2 linked regions of the Homo sapiens genome follow. The protein of the gene in region 2 interacts with the protein of the main gene of each other region in a biochemical or structural test. Each region holds a gene or a part of one and is shown on either strand. Other genes may lie near its edges.

What was found.
Region 1: the proteins of RNF20 (region 2) and HSF1 form a complex in vitro, tested with the Homo sapiens proteins (one study listed by BioGRID).

What each region holds. Positions count from the first base shown.
Region 1 is NC_000008.11:144,297,479-144,302,734, forward strand, and holds part of HSF1 (heat shock factor protein 1), read left to right. Parts: intron 1-5,256. UniProt on the Homo sapiens protein: Functions as a stress-inducible and DNA-binding transcription factor that plays a central role in the transcriptional activation of the heat shock response (HSR), leading to the expression of a large class of molecular chaperones, heat shock proteins (HSPs), that protect cells from cellular insult damage.
Region 2 is NC_000009.12:101,539,752-101,545,007, reverse strand, and holds part of RNF20 (E3 ubiquitin-protein ligase BRE1A), read right to left. Parts: intron 4,806-5,256; coding exon 4,638-4,805; intron 4,519-4,637; coding exon 4,371-4,518; intron 4,216-4,370; coding exon 4,033-4,215; intron 242-4,032; coding exon 123-241; intron 1-122. UniProt on the Homo sapiens protein: Component of the RNF20/40 E3 ubiquitin-protein ligase complex that mediates monoubiquitination of 'Lys-120' of histone H2B (H2BK120ub1).

The DNA of each region.
Region 1 (5,256 bases), on a different chromosome or scaffold from region 2:
ACAAGAAGAGTGTTTATGAGAAAGGTGCGGGTGGCTCAGATGTGGACAGAACCAGACCAGGGAACGGGGCCACAAAGTGAGCCACTTTGTCTGCACCTGCTCGCGCTTCCTGCCTGCCTCACTGCTTCCATGCCCTGACTCCGGTGGTCCCTGCTCCCCACACGTGGGCCACAGCTACTCACACACGCGCTCCCTTTGCTCCTAAAGCCTATACTCCCGGGACCCGGAGAGGGAACAGCCGGCCAGCCGAGCCCAGGAGCCCAGATCACCGGTCAGCAGATACAGCTTTGACTTGGCAGGAGGCTGGAACAAGAGGCTTGTGGCCTGGGCTGTGGGGCCACCTTGTAGAATACGGCACTGTTCACGTTTTGGGCCAGGGAGCCCTTTGAGAAGATACTCAGAGACACAGACACTTTCTATGTAAGGTGTCCCTACAGGCAGGATCTCACACACATTTCAGGTCCTTCACAGTGCTGCAGAAAATGAGGCCACAGGCTCCAAGTTTACTGCAAGCTGCGGGGTTTGCTGACACCTACACTTCTCAGCGTGTGGCATCTCGCACCAGCCAGGGGCCTCCCATTTCCAGTGGCAGGTTTTCGTGATATCCAGTTATGACCGGTGACTCCTCCAAGAGGTGCCTGTGGTCAGCAGAGGAGGGACCTTGTTCCACTGAGGCAGGAAGATGAGAGAGACACTGGGTTCTCTGATGGGTTCACCAGCAGACCCTGTGAAATTCATAATGGCCCCTAAGGTAGGGGTTGCCTGACATGTTCAACTTGGATTTAACCCTTAAGGCATAAGAAGCCGCTGAAAATGTTCAGACGTTACAAAACTAGGGCCGGGCACGGTGGCTCACGGCTGTAATCCCAGCACTTCGGGAGGCTGAGGCGGTTGGATCACCTGAGGTCAGCAGTTCAAGACCAGCCTGACCAACATGGTGAAACCCCGTCTCTACTAAAAATACAAAAAAAAAAAAAATAGCCAGGCGTGGTGGTGCGTGCCTGTAATCCCAGCTACTCGGGAGGCTGAGGCAGGAGAATCACTTGAACCTGGGATACAGAGGTTGCAGTGAGCCGAGATTGCGCCGCTGCGCTCCAGCCACAGAGCGAGAAACTGTCTCAAAAAAAAAAAAAGAAAGAAAAGAAAAAACCGGCGAGGACTGAGGTAAACCACAAAATTGTCCAGGCTTTTTATGTGGAGGGAATTTGCAGACTCACGTGCAGAGAACCCAACAAACCCAGACTTTGGGGCAGCTGAGGCAGCTAGAATGTGTGGGGTGTGGTACCAGAAAGGAAGGAGTTACGCCCAAAACAAAGAGCTCCAGCAATCTGCGCGTGAGCCCGCTTGCATCTTGGGTTGGATCCGATTTGCTGGTGCACACAGTGAAACCTCGTGGAGCTGGACCAAGAGCAACTTGAAGGGGAAGAGTAAGTGTAAGGGGACAGATGAGCAGGACTCACACAGGGCCGTGGTTATTTCAGTTCCCACCAGCCAGAGTATAGAAGCCACTTTAAATACAAGGAGCTTTCATGACACCTTAGAGGAAACACAGCTTGGAAGTGGCGCAGAATAAGCTGCAGAGGAAAGGCCACTCCAATGCCGTGGAAACAAGTGCAAGGCAAGCCCTGGAAACACCACTGCCTGCTAGCACGGAGTACACACAGCACTCTTGAGAGAAGGAAGCCAGGCGAAGTGGCTCACACCTGTAATCCCAGCACTTTGGGAGGCCGAAGCAGGCGGATTATCTGAGGTCAGGAGTTCAAGACCAGCCTGGCCAATATGGTGAAACGCCGTCTCTACTACAAAAAATTAGCCATGTGTGGTGATGGGCGCCTGTGGTCCCAGCTACTTGGGAGGCTGAGGCAAGAGAACCACATGAGCCCGGGAGGCAGAGGTTGCAGTGAGCCGAGATCGCATCACTGCACTTCAGCCTGGGCAACAGAGCAAGACTCCTTCTAAAAAAAAAAAAAAAAATTCACGTCCAGAATCTAATCAGTCATGGGCAGACAAGCCAAAGCAGAAAAATGGACTTGTCACTGGAGGGGGTCCAGTAGCAGGCCCAGTTTTGATAGGATTAGCCAACAAAGACAGTAAACAATTATAAAAATGTTCCCTGTGCTCAAAGAAATAACACAAAAATGTGACTGAGGGCTGGGCGTGGTGGCTCACACCTGTAATCCCAGCACTCTGGGAGGCCGAGGCGGGTGGATCACGAGGTCAGGAGATCAAGACCATCCTGGCTAACATGGTGAAACCCCGTCTCTACTAAAAATACAAAAAATTAGCCGGGCGTGGTGGCGGGCACCTGTAGTCCCAGCTCCTCCAGAGGCTGAGGCAGGAGAATTGCTTGGACCCGGGAGGTGGAGCTTGCAGTGAGCCAAGATCGTGCCACTGCACTCCAGCCTGGGTGACAGAGCGAGACCCCGTCTCAAAAAATAAGAAAACATGACTGAGAAATGGAAGATACAGAAAAGAAGCAAGTTGGACAAAATGTCACTGGAACTAATCTCCCAAGTAGAAGAATTCCACATTGTTTACTGAGATAGTTCCCCTTCGAGGAGGTGATGCTTAACTCCTCACTCCAGAAGCCTGGGCTTTACCTAGTGACCCTCTTCCAAAGAGCAGAGCACAGAAGCAGGAGGAGCAGCTTTCCAGTGGAGACCTCCAGCAACACAGCCTCACCAGGGACCATGCTCACCATCAGCAGTGACATGCGTATCACTGTTGTGTACTCTTTTTTTTTTTTTTTTTTTTTTTGAGACGGAGTCTCGCTCTGTTGCCAGGCTGGAGTGCAGTGGCACAATCTCGGCTCACTGCAACCTCCACCTCCCAGGTCCAAGCAATTCTCCTGCCTCAGCCTCCCACGAAGCTGGGACTACAGGCACCCGCCACCTCGCCCGGCTAATTTTGTTGTATTTTTAGTAGAGATGGGGTTTCACCGTGTTAGCCAGGATGGTCTCAATCTCCTGACCTCGTGATCCGCCCACCTTGGCCTCCCAAAGTGTTGGGCGCGTCAGCCACCGCGCCCGGCCTGTTGTGTACTCTTGATAGGATGATGAGAACAGCACTCTACCTCTTTGATCTTCCTCCCAAAAACATACGTAACCCCAGCTAATGATGAAAAAACATCAAACAAATCCAAATTGAGAGACATTCCACAAACTGTTTGACGAGTCCTCAAAATTGTCAAGGTTCTCAAAAACTAGGCAAGTCTGAAAGGTGCCAGAGTCAGTGGGACTGAAGAAGATGTGACAACTGGATGGATTTTGGATGATGTCCTGGAGCAGAGGAAGGATTGGGTAAAAAGCTAAGGAATCTGATTAGAATGTGGGTCCTAGTTAACAATGTGTCTAATGTTCTTGAGACAACTGTACCACACAAAGGCAGGATGTTAATGATGGGGGACACTGGTGTAGGGCATGTATTCTAAAGTAAAAAGGTGGTTCTTCAGAGTCACCGGAGCGGTTTAACAAAACATTAGAAACTTCAGAAGAAAAGATTCCTGAACTAAAAGCAATGGAAACTGTCCACAGTGATGTACAGGGAGAAAAAGGACTGCAAAAACTTAGCCGAGCTTCAAGGACATAATATCATGTGGTCTAACGTATTTGAGGTTCCAGAAAACAGTGGGGAAGAGAATACAGAAATATGACCAAAAGGCTGGACACGGTGGCTCCTGCCCGAAATCCCAGCACTCTGGGAGGCTGACATGGGTGGATCGCTTGAGCCCAGGAGTTCAAGACCAGCCTGGGCAACATAGCAAGACCCTGTCTCTATAAATAATACAAAAATTAGCCGGGCGTGGTAGTGCCTGCCTGTGGTCCCAACTACTCGGGAGGCTGAGGCGGGAGGATCACCTGAGTGCAGGAGGTGGAGGCTGCAGTGAGCCATGATCGTACCACTGCACTCCAGCCTGGGCAACAGAGCCCTGTCTCAAAAAAAAAATTATGGCCAAAATTTTTCCCAAATTTTTGAAAAGCTGTAAGCTCACAAATCCAAGAATATCAGTCTTAAGCAGGATAAAACCAAAACCATATCAAGGTACATTATATAATCAAAGTGCTGGAACAGGCTGGTGAAGAGAAAATCTTAAAAGCTCCAGAAGAGGCCGGGCGCGGTGGCTCACGCCTGTAATCCCAGCACTTTGGGAGGCCAAGGCGGGCGGATCACCAGGTCAGGAGGTCGAGACCATCCTGGCTAATACAGTGAAACCCCGTCTCTATTGAAAATACAAAAATTAGCCGGGCGTGGTGGCGGGTGCCTGTAGTCCTAGCTACTCGGGAGGCTGAGGCAGGAGAATGGCGTGAACCCGGGAGGCAGAGCTTGCAGTGAGCCGAGATCGCACCACTGCACTCCAGCCTGGGCGACAAAGCGAGACTCCGTCTCAAAAAAAATAAAAAGCATCCAGAAGAGCCGTGCACGGTGGTGGTGCCTGTGGTGCCAGCTACTCAGAGGCTCGGGTGGAAGGATTGCTCCCAGATGGGGCAACATAGCTTGGCCAACATGGTGAAACCTTGTCTCTACTAAAAATACAAAAACTAGCTGGGCGTGGTGGCAGGTGCCTGTAATCCCCGCTACTCGGGAGGCTGAGGCGGGAGAATCTCTGGAACCCAGGAGGCAGAGGCTGCAGTGAGCCGAAACTGCACCATTGCACTCCAGCCTGGGCGACACAGCGAGACTCCGTCTCCAAAAAAAAAAATTTTTTTTTGCAACTCAGGAAGACAACCATTTAAAAAAAATTAAAGGCAGGCCGGGCGCCGTGGCTCACGCCTGTAATCCCAGCACTTTGGGAGACCGAGGCAGGCGGATCACAAGGTCAGGAATTCAAAAGCAGCCTGGCCAATATGGTGAAACCCCGTCTCTACTGAAAATACAAAAATTAGCTGGGCGTGATGGCAGGTGCCTGTAGTCCCAGCTACTCAGGAGGCTGAGGTGGGAGAATCGCATGAACCCGGGAGGCAGAGGTTGCAGTGAGCTGAGATCGCGCCATTGCACTCTAGCCTGGGCAGTGGAGCGAGACTCCATCTAAAAAAAAAAGATAATAATAATAATAAATAAAACGCAAGTGGCTGAGCATGGTAGCTGACACCTGTAATCCCAACACTTTGGGAGGCCAGCGCGGGTAGATTGCTTCCACTCAGGAGTTCGAGACCAGCCTGGGCAACATAGGGAGACCCATCTCTACAAAAAAAAATGAGCCTGATGTGGTGGTGTGCTCCTGTGGGCCCAGCTACGCGGGAGGCTGAGGTGGGAGGA
Region 2 (5,256 bases):
CAAAATCCCCTATGATATGATAGGCCTTCTAGAGTAAGGTAATCTTTGAGGTGCTCAGAATTGTAAGTCAACATCTGCCACAGCCCACTAGACACAGCCATCTCTCCTTTTTGGTTAAGTACCTCCTGAGACATGGTGCGATGCTTTTCCTGAAGAAGATCTGTCAATTCCTGTAGCCTCATATTCTCCTGTGCGAGGAAAGAGTTCAGCTCCTGCACTGCTTCCTCCACTATCAGATTATCTGGGGAAGAAGAACTATACTTTAATTTAGCATCTAGAGTGTCATTTTTTTTTTTTTTTTAAGACGGAGTCTTGCTCTATCGCCCAGGCTGGAGTACAGTGGCGCGATCTCGGCTCACTGCAACCTCTGCCTCCAGGGTTCGAGCCGATTCTCCTGCCTCAGCCTCCAGAGTAGCTGGGATTACAGGCACATGCCACCACACCCGGATGATTTTTGTATTTTTAGTAGAGATGGGGTTTCACCATGTCGGACAGGCTGGTCTCAAACTCCTGACCTCAGGTGATCCACCCACCTCAGCCTCCCAAAGTGCTGGGATTACAGGTGTGAGCCACCGTGCCTGGCCTATAGTGTCAAATTTTAAAACTGTGTATCCTTGGCCAGGTATAGCAGCTCACGCTGTAATCCTAGCACCTTGGGAAGCCAAGGCAGGCCGATCACTTGAGGCCAGGAGTTCAAGACCAGCCTGAATAACAAAGCAAGAATCATATGCTCTTATCACATATTCTCATATCATATATTCTGAAATACTATGTTAGGGGCACTTCTGAAGCTTAAAAACCAAAATGTACACTACTATTTACAAAGCAGGTAGGTAAATCCATAGAACTTATTACACCAAGTTCGTATGTTTAAAATTAGAGTTGCAAATACTATAGCTGAAATCCAAATGTAATTAAATGAAACCAGATACTCTCAGGATATATACCACCCATCAAAGAGAGTTATCAGGAAGAAAAATATGCTTTCTCATATCACCTCTTGGCATTACTCTTAGTATCAATACAGAACAGGTTGGTCATATGGTGGTTTTCATGGTTTTCAAGCTAGGCTTGCCCATCAGAATCACTTGTGGAACTTTTAAAATAGACATTTCCCTAGGACCTATCTCATACCTACTTAATAAGAACCTCCATGGGCAAAGCCAAAAATAAGAATATGCTCAGAAAACTCCCAAGGTTATTCTGATTCATAACCTGAGTTAAGAAGTAGAGACTGAATTTTAGTCCTCTCAATATCCTAAGCACTGAGGACAGGGCTAGAATACAATAAAATTCAATAAATGTTTAGTGAATTTATAAACAAGCCCATAAATGCAATTCTTTTGAATCAAAGACCAAACAAACAGACAGTACTGCCCTGGCAGGTTAGACAGTGCCGCCCTGGCAGGGTTAGACAGTGCCGCTCTGGCAGGTTAGACAGTGCCGCCCTGGCAGGTTAGACAGTTCCGCTCTGGCAGGGTTGGACAGTACTGCAGTGGCAGGGTTAGACAGTGCCACCCTGGCAGGGTTAGACAGTGCTGCCTTGGCAGGTTAGACAGTGCCGCCCTGGCAGAGTTAGACAGTGCCGCTCTGGCAGGTTAGACAGTGCCGCTCTGGCAGGTTAGACAGTGCCGCCCTGGCAGGGTTAGACAGTGCCGCCCTGGAAGGGTTAGACAGTGCCGCCCTGGAAGGGTTAGACAGTGCCGCCCTGGCACGGTTAGACAGTACTGCCGTGGCAGGTTAGACAGTGCCGCTCTGGCAGGGTTAGATGAATTTATAGACCTTACTCTATAAGGCCTATACTTGCTCTAGAAGGCCTTACCTTACTCTAGAAGGCCTATCATATCATAGGGGATTTTGTAAAACACAACACAACTCCAAACCTCCAAATAATGAATTACCCTAAATATAAAAGACTGTATAGTGTTATTGAGGAATGGCGTGGTAGAAATTCCACAGGGAATGGGGAAGTAGAAACTACTGTATTGATGATGTCCTAGGAATTTGAGGAATGTCAATTTTCAGTCTAAGTCAGGGGGATGAACTTTCAAACAAGTTACAACTGATGCTATAATTCATACTTTATACATCTTTATCTCTTAGAAAGTTCAGCTTACCAATGGCAATTGCCTTTTGTGTTACAAATAATGGCATGGCTATTTGTAATGTTTCTACTTTTTAACTTAAACCCGACCTTAAAATGCATGCCATTAAATAGTAATTTTAAAGTCGTTTGATATACTACTCATTTTATTCCCTTTTTAAATAAAACAATTGTTTCACTTGATATTCATTTATGAAATCAAGTTTAACATAGTCTATGCACATGGCATATTAATTACCATATTACTAAAATTTAACAATACCTTCTAACTATTCAATTAGAGCCCAAGGAGAAAGAAGCATATGTGCACACACAAAGCACCATTATTTTATATTAGGTGACAGGGAGGTTCACATCCATTCATTCCCCATTGACTAAACATCTGCTAGATGCCAGATGCAGTGCTAGAAACTAGAGAAACAAAGAAGAGTGAGCCAAACTACTGAACCAAGACACAGTTTAGCTGGGGACATGCAAGTAGATGTAAGATATTAATACAAAAGTACAAAAGTCTGAGAGGACATAAAACACATTGTTTAGAATGGTTATCTTTTGAGAAATGAGAATGGGGAAACTTTTGTAGTCTACTTATTTGTATTTCTGACTTGTATATTTTTAAACAAGTATCTGTTTTCCTTATAATAAAATACAGAAATGCATAATCTAATGGAAAAGCAAAAGAAACCCGTGACCAAATTTTCACAGGCCTTCTACAAGCTGCTTAATTCTGTTGACAACTTAGCCCAATTACCCTTAAAAGCAAAATTACAGAATAATACAATTCTTATATGCTCATCCAATGGTTCAACCTCCATTACATTCAACTTATTTCCTTCAGAAATGAAAGGTTAAACATCTTAATGATAAGCAGGGAAATTAAGATATTACAACTAGACCATGATTATTATTGAAAACATGAAATCAAGGCATTTTTTTTGCATTTGAGCAAGGTATTTATGCCACAAATGACTAAAGATGTAACCTAGCTACACAAATACTTTACTGTACAAATTTAAATTTTTGCATTAACTCTGAGTAACACAATTATCCCAAATAATTATTTTATTTCAAATACTCTTTCATCCATAGAATATTTTCTAATAATCCTTTTAACCATACAGATCATCTGTCAACTCTAAAACCTGCACCAACTCTTTTTAAAAACATTAGCGATAATGAAAAATAAGTTAAGTAAAAATTAACTTTTTCAAGTCAAAATTCTGTAACTAATAATTAAATAATATAGTTGTTATTTAAAATAAAGTATTATCACTATAAATCAATAGCCTACATACACGATAAACAGATCCAGATATTAGAGCTGTTTATTAAATAATAAAGTTAATTCTGCTATTTACAAAACTGTCATTAATAGAGTATATCAGTATAGAGCTGATAAACTCTTTCCTCAGCTTATTAAAGGACTGTCATGTGGCTCAAAATGAGAAGCACTGATAAAAGATTAATATGCCATAATGAAGACATTACCAGTAACACTGAAGGTTAGAATTTCTAAAAATTTAATTAAAATATATAGTCCAGGCACAGTGGCTCATGCCTGTAATCCTAACACTTTGGGAGGCCAGAAGAGAGGATCTCTTGAGGCCAAGTTTGAGACCAGCCTGGGCAACATAGCAAGACTTCCTCTCTACAAAAAGGTTAAAATATTAGCCAGGTGTGGTAGTACGTGCCTATAGTCCTAGCTATTCGGAAGCTGAGGCAGAAAGATTGCTTGAGTTCGAGGATTCAATGGGCTATGATGGTGCCACTGTGTTCCAGCCTGGGTGACACAGTGAAACCTTATCTCTTAAAAAGTAAATAATAAATAAATAAAAATAAATATGTAAGCTTGCAAACTACAAATTAGCATGCAAAAATGAATTCTTATTCCTCCTCCACTACTCCCGGCCTCCAGGGTCTTGCCTCACCTCCACTGTTTAGCTTCCGGGATAAGAGCTCCACTTTTTCTTGCAATTTATCATAAACAGTCACAATCTGGGACACGGCTCGGCGGGAAGACTCCACACGTTCCTGCAGCTGAGACTCCATCTCTTCACTGGAACTGCTGGCCAAAGTAGCAAGGAAAGAGAAAGCTGGCTCTTGCCCTTCCCCTGAGGACACAGGGGGAAAAAAAGAAGCCCCCCAAAATTATAAACTGGAAATAACAAAATCCATTTTTTTTCCCTCAAATGGAAAGCCTCAAAGCAGAGCTCTACTTTAAAAACCCAGATAGCATGCAGTGATAGAATCCATCACGAACACTTGCCTCTCTCTCGGTCATCTTTACGCTCCTGATTGCTATCAGAGTCTGGTTCTGGTTCAGGCACAACAAGGGCTTTTCGTTCTGTGAGTAGGTCTCCCAAGCCCTGCTCCAGATCATAACGTTTAAGGATGATACGGATGTTTTCATCAAACTGGAGAAGGGTAGGTACAATTATGAAGAAACAAAGGACACAACTTTGGAAATGAAGAGAACAGTAAGGAGAACTAAATTGGTCAAATAAAAATCTGAACAAATAAACAAGTTAGCTACCTGACTCCAGTATCGGTTGACAATCAATAGTGAGGCATCATCAGTGGCCTGTCGTCGTTCCAGTTTTTCAATGTGCTCACGAAGTTCATCTTCAATGGCCTGCCGCTGATCCAACATTTCTGCCAGCTTGCGATTTTTGGTTTGCAGTGTTCTAATGTCTAGTTCCTCCTGCCCAGTAAACCAATCGTATTAGTCTCCACAAAGAAATAAGAAAAATGAGCCGTTAAACTCAACAAGGTCACAATTATTCATTAGTTATTTTCTATGAATAAAGCTATTGACTTTTAAAAAATCTTACAAGTAATTAAGAAGTAGAAGCAGAAGAGATAAACAACAGGTATATGATGGTGTGAGGAAAGAATAATACACACAAATACACCAGAACCTCAACCCATCTCGCTGTTCTAGTCACATAAACATCTACAAAGTAATGCTGCTTTAAGGCCACCATCCAGCTAGATCACCCTCGACTCCAATCAACACTGTCTTCTATCTCGTAAGCACCATCCTTCCTTCATTAAAGACTTCAGCACCTGGGTCCCTGTCTATCCCAGTTCCTGCCAATATATCTGGTGACTTCACCATACATGTGGACAAACCATCTAATCCTCTAGCATCT